Linked DNA regions of Homo sapiens. The protein of the gene in region 3 purifies or fractionates together with the protein of the main gene of each other region. This does not show direct contact. Each region holds a gene or a part of one and is shown on either strand. Other genes may lie near its edges.

Region 1 (4,844 bases), on a different chromosome or scaffold from region 3:
GTACTTGAAAGCCCCCATGTGTTGGTTCTTCTGACTTGTAGCCCACCAACTAACTGGAGAAACTCAACTGACAAGTCATTTAACCCTATGAACCTTGGTTTTCTCAATTACAGAATGAGTGGTGGGAGGTTGCTCATTATTGGAAATGATAGCTCCTACAGATTGAGCAGTGACTGCATGCTGAGCACTGCGCTAAGTGCTTTAACAAGCATTAGTTCATTTCATCCTCATAATTATCATACATGTTAACTACTAGTATGTCTGTTATACTAAGGTAGTTGGTCTAAAATCACATCTGGAGTGTGAAGTGGTAGAGCAGACCTTGGATGCCAGGGGTGAACAGTTCTAGTATATAGCTTCTTATTTATGCCTAGTGTTCCATTATTGGAACACTAAGCTTGTGGTAGTTATTTATATCTCACTGATCAAGGTTATTGCCAAGGTCTGATTTTTCACAAAAAAAAAATTTGCAACCTCTGGCATAAATGGGTTAATTACTAGCACATTCCTCTGAAAATCCGTGGAATTTCATTCTTTTTATTTCCCTTGTGAGGCATGGCAGAGGAGGTCCTATTTTCTGATTCTAAGTGATCTCCCCTCTCTGGTTTATACAGTGATTTGCCATAGGCACCTATAGAAAGCTCCCCTTATTCATTTTCCATTTCATTGTACAGATATGTTTGAAATTATATGGAAATTTATCAGTTATACAAAGACATAATGGGGGAAGCAAAAGTAGACACTATCCCTTCTTTGATGGAATGATTGCATTGAAAAATGACTTCTTACATTTGAGAAAAGCAAGAAAATGCTTGAGGACCGATTTTGCTTGTTCTCTAGCTGCCCTGGGGCACATCTGCACTCCTTAATTCATCTGTGAACCGTATAAGGGTAGATCCTCGCTTTTGAAATTTCTCTTGCCCCTATGCAACAAACAGATAAGTACTTTAATGGACAGGTATTTTTAACATGTCATTTAAAAGATAAAATCAATGGCATTCACTGGCTTTCACATGAAAAACAATTCTAACACTAGCCAGTTTTAACACATTTTCTGTCCAGCCTTCACACGTAATTCTTCCTTCTAATATTTTATTAACAGATTTACAAGGGTCCCGACTCTTCCTTCCGGTATTCCAGCCTTCAGCTGAACTGTGAATATCGCTTCCGTGTATGTGCCATTCGCCAGTGCCAAGACTCTCTGGGACACCAGGACCTCGTAGGTCCCTACAGCACCACAGTGCTCTTCATCTCTCAGAGGACTGAACCACCAGCCAGCACCAACAGAGACACTGTGGAAAGCACAAGGACCCGACGGGCACTGAGTGACGAGCAGTGTGCTGCCGTCATCCTTGTGCTGTTTGCTTTCTTTTCCATTTTGATTGCCTTTATCATTCAGTACTTTGTAATCAAGTGAAAATATAACTTTATTTTTTAACTCTATTACATTTTATTTTGTCATGTACTAAAATTATTTCTGTATTGCTTTTATAAAAAACAGTGGCATTTAGCACTGGCATTGAGACTATAGCACATCATTTTTGCCATTTTCAGTGCTTATATTGTTAGGTAGAGGCTGGCACTTTATTAGAATGCAAGCCACAAAAATATCAATTTTGTTTTTTTTGTTAGGGTGGGTCTTCTTTTTTTCTTTCCCTCTCTCTTTTTTTAACAAATGCCTTCTTATAGAAAAACTTTCTAAGAGGCAACAATTTAGAATGGATATTTTGACGAATCGGCATGAGTGTAACAGTGATAACCTGATCTGTTTGTTTTAAAGATTATTACCAAGTGAAAAATTCAGAATGAATAGAATTTACACTAACATGCTATATAAAATGTTAAAGTCTGATGCTGTGAAAGCAATCTAGTGCTATATTTCTACCTCCTCATTTGTCTTAATTATTTGGTAAGTGGGATTATGATGAGTAACTGGAGGGGCTTAGAAACAAAAACTGGATGAAAGAGTATGCATGAAGAAAAGCTTCTTTGATAAATGTGGAGTTCTTCATTATAAATATATATTCATGAATTCACAGATAAGTACTTAAAGAACAGACAGTTTACTTGGCCTAAAAATATTTTGATGTTTACTCAAAAAGTACCTCTTCAGGTCTTGAGAACATGGAAAAGAATTGAGTGCTTTTAAATACTTTTTAGAAAGTAATCATAAAAGTAAATTGAATTTCAAACCTATTTGGCTTCTGTTTTGTGAACCTTTGAACTATATGTATGTGTATAAGGGTATACACATACATATATGGCATATAACAAGTGTACACATATACACATAACAAGTGTAGAAGTATATATTACATACATACACTCACTCTGTCTGGTATAGGCTAATTTTGAAGAACTCCCATAAGTTTCTGCTGCTTCTCCCATAACTGCTGCCACCACCATCAGAATTCATAATCAAACCTAACCTTTTTGTTTGGGGCACCAAATCTGAAGACAAAATTAATTTGCACCAGTAAACTTCAAGCTGCTTTCTTTCTTGAAAACTAAACGTTTAACGTATAATGTCTGTTTGGATACTGTTCCAAATTGTTGATTGCATGTGGTTAATGTTGCATTAGAGCACTTTGCAATTGCATAATTCATTAATGTTTTGTGAGCTTGCATTTGTGAGTTATTGGATGATCAGACTGAATTTTGTCAAGTATCACATTGTACATCTTGCCTAGATGTCGATGACTGCAAGTAATAATACAGTTTATAATGAAACTATCTACAATTCTTGTTTTAGCACATCTGTTATCCGTAAAACACCTGTAACTAGCTTTTTTAATTTATTATTTGAATTTTAGGATAGCGAATCACTAATTTTTAGTTGCTGAGGTTGGCATTTTAGTGATTATTAAGCACTTCTGTCAGTCTTTGAAAAAAGAACGTATTTTTTGTGCTTTGAAGATCTCTGAAGAATTTCTTTTATAATAGAATGGGCATGTATTGTAACAGTTTTATGTCAAATGATCTGTGCTGTAGAAAAACATTAACCCTTGTTCAAAAAAGAAATGGATAAACTTGGCCTTTCTAAGTGGTAAGAATGACCTGTCACTATAATATACTGTATGTTTACATTTTATTTAAATTTAATCTCTTATGTATAGGGTGATAACCTTCCCCAGAAACAACAGTGATTGCGATTGTTTTCTAGAAACTTCTTTAAAGTGCCACATTTGGCAGTACAAATGAGTCTGAGTGTAATAGCCCAGAGATTTATATATAGTTGAATGTCTAAAATGGTAAAATGTGCCACTGTGTCAAGTTACAGTGGCTTATGTTTTTCATAGTAATTCAAATGAACTTCCTATTTTTGATAGTAAATGTCATTTAATAGTATACTTGCCATTTGAGCCTCACTGCAAAATTAGTGCAGAGGAGAAAACAATTTTTAATGTAATCTTGATTTTACCTCATATACTGTACATTCCAAAAACTCTAAACTTTTTAAAGATTATAGATACACTACCAAACATATCACCTTAAAATTGTATAAGGCTGAATGAACTTCATACAAATGAAAAAAATCTCATAAAAATACATAAACTATGTAGCAAAAGTATCTGTAAAATCCATGGAAAATAAAAGTTGTATCATTCTTTTTGAGATACGTTTATTGTATTCATATATATTCATTATTTGCTACCTGTTTAAGAAAGTGAAATGTTATGGTCTCCCCTCTTCCAATGAGCTTAAAACATTTTTCCCAACAGTATATAAATCTTCAACATGAGAGGATGTATATTTATTATATAAAGCCCAGTAAAGAATAAAATTAGAAGTTTTATCCTAGTGACTTGATTTTGTGCAACTCATGAAATATCTTACTTCCTTTCCACATATAAAGAATACAGTGAGTCTAAGGTAAACTTCCCAGTGGGAAGAAAATCCCTAACCTCTCCTTGCCTTTCCCACATCCCTATTTTCTAGTACCTTCTTTCGCCCACCACCAGAGGCCCAGAACCTTCCTGGTAGTGGCACTGCTGGGTCTGCCTTCCACCAGAAAATCCAACATTCTCTCACTCATCCCCCATTAAAATTTCCATCCCAAGAACTTCCTCCTGGGGATGGACACTCAGTGCCTTTTTTTTTTTCTTTTTTTAATGGGTAAGCTAGTAAATTTTATGTTATAAATATTTTACCACCATAAAAAAATCATTGAAAAATTCACTGAAGAAGCCAATATGGAAAGAGGAGAACTCAATGTTTAAAATAAAGCCAACTTTTTTTTTTTATTCAAGAGGTAAGTACATAGCTTCAAGCTCAAGGTCTAGGTTGAGGACAATCATGAGTCCTATTAAAGGACAACCAGTTTAAAGAACACTGTCAGGCAAGCTACCACGTAGCTCTCCTTCACTCCAGGCTTAGCTGTTCCAGACTTCCCAGTACTGATGAAGGATCATGTTTTTGTTCAGCTTTGCCCAGTGCTGTCATTCATAATAGATAAATGAAAAGTCCCAGAAACCTGTTGTGTTTGGGAAGGTTTTCTTTTGTTCCAGGCTTCAGTGGTTAATATGCTTGACAAATTTCAGAGTCTCTATCTCTGTAGACCAATGCCAAAGAATTGCTTTCTGGATTCACTGTTAGCAGCTCTTCGTCTTCATCTTTGGCAATGTAAGAAAACCACCATATTCTGGCCCCCAGCCTTCACAGCCACAGTGGAGAATTAAGTCTAGGGCAAAATCAGCCTTGCCATGGTCACGAATTAAAAGTGTGGTGACCAGTCTTCCAACGCCTCAGTTCCCTTTGGCATGTGGGAACACCTGATTCATTCTTTGTTTCATTTTCCTCTGACTCGGTCTGTCTGCTCATGGCTCTGTTGGCCGTTGATGCTG
Region 2 (4,844 bases), on a different chromosome or scaffold from region 3:
ATTATGCTTCTTCATGTAATTTGACTTGCAGTAGTGAAATGAGACTGACCAATTTTCAAATTGTTTGATTTTTATTGATGTTTGATAAACCACTAAAACCTCTTGAAAATATTTTTTTCTTAAATCCACTGATTGAAACCGATGTATTTTTATTGCTATGAAATAATACAACAAATTTCCAGGAATTATTTCAGAAAATGTGGAAAGACTGTAGAGAAATGAATAGCCCTAGAGAAAATATCTCAAAATTATAAAAATGGCTTTCTCAAGTTACTGATATTCATAACAATCAGGTTTTTATGTATCATTCATTCATTTACTAATTCATTTTACAAAATCTACTGGGTACTTGTGTGCCAAGGCCCTGTGTTAGGCACAATGATAAACCTTATAAGGCATGATCTTTGCTCTTGTGGAGTATCACAGTGCTTATATTCTACCAGAGAATACAGACAATAAACGAGCAAACAAATGAAGAAGATCCTTATAGACTGTAGTAAGAGCAATGAAAATAAGTAGGGGAATATGATACAGATAGCTAGGAAGGGCCTACTTTAGTGTGGGAAGTCAGAAAAGGCCTTTCAGAGAAGATGATTGAGCAGAGACCTGAAAGAGAAGAGAGAATAGGCCTACCTTGTCAGGATCTGGGAGAACATTCCCGAGATAACATTCTTGCAGAGAGAAGAGTAAGAGCCAAGGCCTTGAGGGGGGAAAAAGAGACTTGGCGTTTTTGAAGAGCAGAAAGCAAGCCAGCATGGCGGATTAAAGAAGATGTTACAGAGCCTAGAAGCAGCTCAATAACCGATAAATAGGACTTGGAGGTCCTGAGAAAGAATTTGGGTTTGATTCTCAGAACAATAGGAAGCCACTGAAGAGTCTTTCCTGGGGAAGGTCATTGGCTTAAAAAAATTATCCAGGGAAATTTAAAAAAAAATGTTTTGCAGAGGATAAATAGAATGTCTACTCATTCAGTCATTTATATTAATACCTGAGAATAAAAAAAACTCTATGATCAGTATGCTAAATAATCATGTAATTCGGTTCCTCTACTCTGTTTAGGTAAGGGGATGGGGGAATGGGAACCCTGAGGTGAGTATGTTAAAAGGCAGTTTACTTTCCACTGTCACATTGTGACTTGTGCTACAAGGTAAGTTGTCACCAACTTTATTAAAAATCAGATCATTGTTCAACTTAAGAATTTATTTTTCAAAGAATGATATCTTATTTTCTCATGGAAATATGTTTCCTTTGGAAGGTTGGAAATTTTATTTTGTATAAAGGAATAACCTAGGTTTTAGAAAGGGCCTTTGGAATTTTAAGAAGGGCTTATCATTTTCTTTTACCTGTTGCCTCTCCAACATTTTCAAATGGCCATACCTTTATTCCTTGAGAGATTAGGGTTACTGTGTTTCCTGAGGCTTAAATGAATTTATTGCCCTAAGCCCTTCCTTGAAAGCAATCCAGCTTTGAGGTCTAGTTGGTCCCAAATAGGAATGCAGATGATTATTGACATTCCATAGGAGTAAATCCTAATATTGTGGGGGAATAACCTGCAAAATAACCTTCATCAGTGCCTGCAGGGTCAACTTGATTTGATCCCAGCCTACTTTCCCATATGTCCTTATTATTCCCTTTCACAAATCTCTATTGGTTTAAACTGATTTTCCCCAGTTTGGAACTTTTGTGCTTAGCATTATTCCTGGCATAGAGTACGTGCACAGTGGGTGCTTGTCAAATGGATGCCATGCCTTTCTTTTTTGTCATTTCAAATTCCAGGTCCTATTACACTATTCCCCATTGAACTAGATCTCCCCCTCTGAAGGTGAACAGCAGTCACACACTTGCCCTGTTGTGTCATAATTATGCTTATTTGATGCCTGGCCATCTCCCCACTTGCCTCTGGCTTCATGAAGGCGACCTAGACCTCATCCGGTTTGCTCATTGTTGTATTCTGAGCACCCAGCACATGGTATGCACTTTATAAATAGTTATTGAATAATGAATAAATACTGTCTTGTGATGTTTCTCCTATTAATTTTTTGATGTTAGATCATTTAATACTGTTTTACTTTTCACGTGTTTGGTGTTCCGAAGTGGTTTCTGAGAGAGGTTGTAGAGCATACTTGTTAAGAGCTCAAGCTCTGGAGCTAGGCCACCTAGGTTTCAATTCCAGCTAGGAGACTTAATAGTTGTGAGACACTGGGTGAGTCAGTAAACCTCCCTGTACCTCAGTTATCTCATATGTAAAAAAGGGGTAATAGAACTTGCCTCTTATGGTACTTGCAAAGATTACATGAATTAGCTAGGCCCACTTTTTCTTTTCTCTTTTTCTTTTTCTTTTTTTTAGACGGAGTCTCGCTCTCTCACTCTATCGTTCAGGCTGGAGTGCAGTGGCATGATCCCGGCTCACTGCAACCTCCGCCTCCTGGGTTCAAGCGGTTCTCCTACCTCAGCCTCCCGAGTAGCTGGGACTACAGGTGCGTGCCACCACGCCAGGCTAGTTTTTTGTATTTTTAGTAGAGACAGGGTTTCACCATGTTAGCCAGGATGGTCTCGATCTTCTGACCTCGTGATCCACCTGCCTCGGCCTCCCAAAGTGTTGGGATTACAGGCGTGAGCCACTGCTCCCGGCCTAACTTTTTATTTTTAGTGGAGACAGGGTTTCACCATGTTGGCGAGGCTGGTTTCAAACTCTTGACCTCAGGTGATCCACCCACCTCGGGCTCCCAAAGTGCTGGGATTGCAGGCATGAACCACCTCCCCCGGCCTAGGCCCACAATTTGTTTGCAATTTTTAAATTTCTAAAGCTCTGAAAACTGAAAAAGATTTTATTTGGTAACTTAGATGCCAAAACTCATGTGGTGGCAAAACCTGACTTAAACTGACATAGGGTATTTATAGTCTTTATTCTACTTAATGTTGATCTTTATTTTGTTTTGCTATAGAATTACTAATATGTTTATGGGGTTGCACCATAGACCCTAATGGTGTATTACATAACATATGGTATATAAAGTATATTTCCTGTCTAAAGGTCTGGACATTTCTAAATTCAGAAACACATCTGGCACCAAGATTTTTCGATGAGATTGTACACCTTGCAGTAAACTGCTTAAATCAGGGCCTTGCACATAGTATGTTGTTGCTGTGGGTGGTGGAGATTAGGGAGGTAAATAAACTACTTTATCTTTCCCAATAGCTTGCTCATAATAGTTACCATGTAAATATATACTGATTTACTCATGCAATAACTGTAAATAGAGGACTGGCTGTGTGGTTCTCATGTCATAGGAAAATAGATATGGCAGGGTCATGTAATTGAAATGAGCCAAGACTCGTCTGTTAGTACTCTCATCTGGTACCATTCAGAGCAGTTTAGTTTTTGTTTTTCTGTTGTTATTTAAACCAACCTATGCTTCTTTAGCACAAGAGAGTCTTTTGTGGGGGTGGGGGTAAGAAATTCAGTTAAGAACTTATTTAATGTGATTAGACACTTATTTTTTTGCAGTTGTTGAACATTTATTGAACTGCTAATGTGTATAGAAATCTGTATTAAGAGCAAGAGAAGGCCGGGCATGGTGGCTCACGCCTGTAATACCAGCACTTAAGGAGGCCGAGGCGGGCGGATGATAAGGTTAGGAGATCGAGACCATCCTGACCAACATGGTGAAACCCTGTCTCTACTAAAAATACAAAAATGAGCTGGGCGTGGTGACATGTGCCTGTAATCCCAGCTACTTGGGAGGCTGAGGCAGGAGAATCGCTTGAGACAGGGAGTTGGAGGTTTCAGTGAGCCAAGATCGTGCCACTGCACTCCAGCCTGGTGACAGAGCGAGACTCAGTTTCAAAAAAAAAAAAAAAAAAAAGAAAAAGAAATAGAAAAGTAGAAAAGAGAAAGGTAGAAAACAAATGAGACATGATTCCTGACCTTCCTTAGCCCCAGCGCCCTGCATGGTTACATGGGGACATGAGTGTGCGTTACAATTCTTTATTTTCCTCTGTAAACTTGACATCATTAAGATTAAAAACATGCAAAGGAAAACCCAAGAGTTAATTGAAAACTCTTCTTAGCGTCCATGATATGAATTGGGTTTTAATTATCCTAACACAACCCCCCTCAGTATTATCTTTATATAACATCTTGACAGCCTTTTCCTTTCTAACTAAACTAAAACAACATGGATTTTCTTGTTCTTTACCAATACACAATTGGTGTATTTTCTTTTGTTTTTGGTAGAGATGAGGTCTCACTATGTTGCCCAGGCTGGTGTTGAACCCCTGGCCTCAAGTGATCCTCATGCTGTGGCCTCCCAAAGTATTGGGATTACAGGCATGAGCCACTGTACCTGGCCTGTTTTTTTTTCCTTCGGTTTTGTGGGGTTGCCAGTAATTACATGTCTCAAAGGATTTTTTCTGCAGTTTTCTTGCAGTTGAAAACTAGTCCTTGAAACTATTCTGCCAATTCATTCAACAAATACTTATTAAGTGCCTATTATATTCCAAGCATTGTGCTAGTCTAAACAAATAGAATCTCTGTCTAGTGCTCTTTCCATTACTTTGGGTCCTTCAAAGTGGAGCACATGTACTGATTGAGCAGGGTGGTGACAAGGTGGTGCTCCCAGGAGCCACAAAATAAAGCAGCTTGTATTTTCTTGAAGCATCTGTTTTACACAGAGATTTAGGAGAACATTAACTGGTAGCTATTTAAAAATCTTTAAACAAATTCAGATACATTCTGCCTTAGAACGCAATATTCATAGAAAATCTGAGGCAAACCCCAATATTTCAGAGAAAGTCTCTGCTTGCAAGGGCAGCTGTGGTAACCCTGAGATGACCCTTTGGAA
Region 3 (4,844 bases):
ATTGAAGACGGGGTTCAGGGTCTTCCTGTGCACCTGGTGGTGGTGGGCGACAGGAGACAGACACCGTGCCCATAAGCCCCTCCTCCACAGGATCCAGGAGTCCAGCCCCCAGCCCCTCCTCCCTCAGACCCAGGAGTCCAGGCCCCCAGCCCCTCCTCCCTCAGACCCGGGAGTCCAGGCCCCCAGCCCCTCCTCCCTCAGACCCGGGAGTCCAGGCCCCCAGCCCCTCCTCCCTCAGACCCGGGAGTCCAGAGCCCTAGCTCCCTCTCTGTGGGAACCCGGTGTCCAGCCCGCTGCTCCGGACCTTGGTCTGAAACTTTTTCTTGCGGTCAGGCAGCAGGTAGATCTTGACGTAGGGGTCTGAGAAGCCGTTGGAGTCCTTGGCAGGGAGGTCCAGGGCCTGCAGGATCCTCACCACCAGCTGGTCCGAGCCATAGAGGTACCGCAGGGCGAAGCTGATACGGCCACAGGGTGCCCCTGTGCCTGCCTCTCCAGAGCCTGGGCCCCCACCGCTCCGCCGGCCACCAGGGCCAGTCCCCTGGTACAGCTCTGGCTTAATCTGCCCAATGAGTTTGGCTTTTTCCTCGCCTCCAGGCAGGGGTAAGGGCAGGGCAGGTGGCCGCTCCTCACTGCTGGGGTCCGGCTGGGAGGTCAGAGTCTGCTGGGTGAGGGGTCGGGGCAGGGCTGGGTACCTGTAGGGGGTTGGGGGGAGACCAAGGTGAGGTCAGTGGCTCTGATCTTCGACTGCATGCAGAGACCTGGGAGACTCCTCCCTGCCTTTCCCCCCATCCCCCAGCCAGGTGGCCACAAGTCCCCTCCTTTGCTCACTGTGTGAGCTTGAGGAAGCCACTGTGCTCTCTGAGCCTCAGATTCCCCATTGGTATCTGGGGGGCATTCCTTCTCTCCCTCCCTCCCTCCCTCCCTCCCTTCTTTCCTTCCTTCCTTCTTTCCTTTTCTTTTGAGACGAAGTTTTGCTCTTGTCACCCAGGCTGGAGTGCAAAGGCGCGATCTCGGCCCACTGCAAACTCTGCCTCCCAGGTTCAAGTGATTATCCTGCCTCAGCCTCCCGAGTAACTGGGATTACAGGCATGCACCACCATATCCGGCTAATTTTTATATTTTTAGCAGAGATGGGGTTTCACCATGTTGGTCAGGCTGGTCTTAAACTCCTGACCTCAGATGATCTGCCCGCCTCGGCCTCCCAAAGTGCTGGGATTACAGGTGTGAGCCACCACACCCAGCCTCATTCTCCCCATTTCAAAGCTAGCTCCAGCCCAGACCTGTGCATAAACCAGCTTCCAGTAACCTCTTTTGGACCTCAAGCTGGTGACCCAGGATGCTTCTCCATGGACCCCTGGCAGACCTTCTTTGAACGCTCTTCTGCCCTTCTCTTAATCTCCCCGGCTGTCTCTCCTCTCTATCCCCACTGTCCTGGTCACAGCTCAGGCCTTGTCCTCTCCTGGACTCTCAGCCTCCAGTGTCTCCCTCCAGCCCACTCCCATATGGCCCCAGAGGGTTCCTTCTACACCCAGAGCTGAGCCTGCCCCTCCCCTGCTCACAGCCCTCCCATGGCTCCTCAGTGCCCTCAGGACAAAGTCCCAGACCCTCAGGCGGGCACTCAAAGCCCCATGTGGTCTGGTGTCTGTAGTCACATCTCTGAAGTTTTCTTTTTCTTTTTTCTTTCTTTCTTTTTTTTTTTTTTTTTTGAGATGGAGTCTCACTCTGCTGCCCAGGCTGGAGTACAGTGGTGCAATCTTGGCTCCCAGGTTCAAGAGATTCTCCCGTCTCAGCCTCCCGAGTAGCTGGGATTACAGACACACACAACCATGCCCGGCTATTTTTGTTTGTTTGTTTTTGTATTTTTAGTAGAGATGGGGTTTCACCATATTGGCCAGGCTGGTCTCGAACTCCTGACCTCAAGTGATCTGCCCACTTCGGCCTCCCAAAGTGCTGGGATTACAGGCATGAGCCACTGCGCCCAGCCTGAAGTTTTCCGTTTTTCAAACTTATTCTCATGCCTTGGTGACTAAGGCTTGGTGCCCTGGCTGTCCCCTTGGTGTGGGCTGTCCTCACAATGCACTAGGATCTCGTTCTCCTCTTGTCTTTGCCTGGGCCTCTCCTTTCACCTGGAATGCCCAGGTCACAGCCCTGCCTCTTTGCCTTCCCAACTCTCCCTCAGCCTGCAGGTCTCAGCTGAGACATCTCCACCTCCAGGAAGCTCCCAGCCTTCTCCCAGTTGCGGTTCCCTGAGTCGCTTTCCTGTCTCACCAACCTGGCTACACCAGGACAGCCAGTCTGGGGGTCGCCTCCCCTGCGCTGTGAGTGACAGGAGGGCAGAGTCTGGTGTTTTCCTAACACCCCTCTCAGGCCTAGTTTATATCAGTGCTCAATATACATTTACATGTATATTGAGAAATAATGAATGAAGGAACTCCAGGTCCCACTACCAATCCTGGCTTAGGGTGAAAGGGGGTGAACTGCCTTGTGCCACAGGGGACTTGGGGATCCAACCTTATTCTCCTCTACTTTCCTGTCCTAAGTCCTGCCCCCAGTCTCCTCCCTCTGGACCCAGGAATTCAGGCCCCCAGTCCCCTACTTCTTCTGGTCCAAGGGGTCTAGACCCCACAGCCCCAACCTCCCTCAGATCCAGGAGTCTAGGGCCCCAGCCTCCTCTTTCCCTAAGATCCAGGAGTCAATACCCCGATTCCCCTCCAAATCCCGAACTCATAAGAGCTATAGATAGGAAAGAGACACAGAGGAGGAGCAGAAGTTCAGAGTGGACCCCCAACCCAGTATCCTCTCTCACCTGGTAGTGGGTGCCAGGCTTGTGACCTGCTGATGTGACTGGGCACTGGGCAAGCCCCCACCACTGGGGGGCAGCAGGAGCAACCCAGAGCCTGCTCCCCCCTCAGAGGGCAGCTCAGGGGATGTTTGGCTCGGTTTGACCCCAGCGGCCACTGCTGCTGCTGCAGCCTCTGGATACGAGTCCATGTCCAAGTAGGAGGGCTCAGGGGTGTCAGAACCCCCCAGGCTGCCTGGCTCCAGCAGCTCAGCAAAGGGTGGATGGTGGGCGGCATGGGCATGGTGGTGTGGGCCGCCCAGCAGAGGATGGCCACCCAGGCCAGCCGCCAGGTGGTGCCCGCCTCCGCCTACCAGGCCTGCCAGCCCGACACCAGGGCCTAGGTCTTTGCGCAGGGGGCCACCGCCCACTGCCGAGCCTCCCTTGTCCCGCCAGGGCACCCAGCACAACTTCCAGGACACGAAGAGAGAGACACCCAGAAGGACAATGCCACAGAATGTCACGATGACCGACAGCAGGCTCACGGAGATGTCTGGAGAGAACGAGGACAGAGGTAGGGGTCAGGATGGGGTCACAGTACATCCTCCCTCTGCTGTCCCCAAAGAGTTAACCCTTCATATTTGCCATGCAATTGTCCATGCAATTGCAAGTGCCAGGCACTTTACATGTATTACTTAATTTATGTTCTACAACTCTACAAGGTTAAGTATTGTATTTTTTTAAAGAGATGGAATCTCTGTTACTCAGGCTGGAGTGCAGTGGCATAATCACAGCTCACTGCACCCTCGAACTCTTGGGCTCAAGCAATCCTCTTACCTCAGCCTCCCAAGAAGCTGGAACTACAGGTATGTGCTATCACACCTGGCTAACTTTTAAATTTTTCTGTAGAGATGAGGTCTTGCTATGTTGCCCAGGCTGGCTCGAACTCCTGGCCTCAAGCAATCTTCCCACCTTGGCCTCCCAAAGTGCTGTGATTACAGATGTGGCCACTGTGCCCAGCCCAGTAGTTCTATATGACCATTTTAAAGATGAGGAAACTGAGACACAGAGAGATTCAGTGATTTGTTTAAGGTTTTACAAGTAATAAATGACAGTTCTGAGATTTGAATCCAGCAGTCTCTCTCCAGATTTTATTCTCTTAATCACTAGACTTTGCTGCCTCTCTATAATAGAACACAACATGTGAGGTAGCACCAAGGTCCTCCAAAATGCTCAGAGATGGTCAAGGAAGCATGGACCCTGCACGACACAGTTAGGCAGGGCAGGGTTTAAATCACGCTTGCTGTGTGGCCTTGGGAACATATCTTGACCACTCTGAACCTTACATTTCCCATTTTCCAAGTAGGAAAAATCAGTTCTTCCCTCTTACAGTAGTTTGAAGGAATGCAGAAGGTAAATCACATGTGGAAGATAATAACAAACATATCTTGAGGGGTGATTACATACCAAATAGCTCAGTACTTTATAGAGATCAGGTTATTTAAGCCTGCCAGGCACTACATGAGGTTGGCAACATATTTATCCCTGTTTTCCACAAAAGAAAACTGAGGTCTGTATACCCATAGTTACCTGCTCAAAGTCCATAGCTGGTAGGTGGTAGAGTCAGGATTTAAGTCTGGGAAGCCTGGCTTCAGAGCCCATGGTCTTTACTATGATGCTATCACACCTCAACGCTTCCCAATAAATGGTAGTTCAAATGTGAATTTTTATTAGAATAATAAATCCTATTGCTGCCACTATGTGCGTCCAACACCATCAACAAGATAGCTAACACATTCTGAATGCCACATATGTGCTGATATGCCTTGCAGAGAAACCCAAGTACAGAATTGTTCTTACAATCAAAGGTTTTAGGCTTCTTCAGTAATTGGTACCAGGAGTGGGGTTTTTCAGAAATGACCTTCAAGGAATGGGAATTTGTTTTGAAATGGACTTCTGGGTGTTGACAAAGTGAAAGACAGGGAAAATCCCTACTCCTGACAGACAGTGGGTTATGGTGGGGAAGCAGGTAGCTAGGCCATTGCCGGCAAGGACAGCTGAGTGG

What was found.
Region 1: the proteins of SYT3 (region 3) and FNDC3A purify together in Homo sapiens (affinity purification with mass spectrometry; 2 studies listed by BioGRID and IntAct, with this or other methods). This does not show direct contact.
Region 2: the proteins of SYT3 (region 3) and KLHL13 purify together in Homo sapiens (affinity purification with mass spectrometry; one large-scale study listed by BioGRID and IntAct). This does not show direct contact.

Annotation. Positions count from the first base shown.
Region 1 is NC_000013.11:49,205,979-49,210,822, forward strand, and holds the end of FNDC3A (fibronectin type-III domain-containing protein 3A), read left to right. Parts: intron 1-1,102; coding exon 1,103-1,417; 3' UTR 1,418-3,801; downstream 3,802-4,844. UniProt on the Homo sapiens protein: Mediates spermatid-Sertoli adhesion during spermatogenesis.
Region 2 is NC_000023.11:118,109,400-118,114,243, reverse strand, and holds part of KLHL13 (kelch-like protein 13), read left to right. Parts: intron 1-4,844. UniProt on the Homo sapiens protein: Substrate-specific adapter of a BCR (BTB-CUL3-RBX1) E3 ubiquitin-protein ligase complex required for mitotic progression and cytokinesis.
Region 3 is NC_000019.10:50,629,480-50,634,323, forward strand, and holds part of SYT3 (synaptotagmin-3), read right to left. Parts: intron 3,333-4,844; coding exon 2,807-3,332; intron 693-2,806; coding exon 305-692; intron 34-304; coding exon 1-33. UniProt on the Homo sapiens protein: Ca(2+) sensor involved in Ca(2+)-dependent exocytosis of secretory vesicles through Ca(2+) and phospholipid binding to the C2 domain.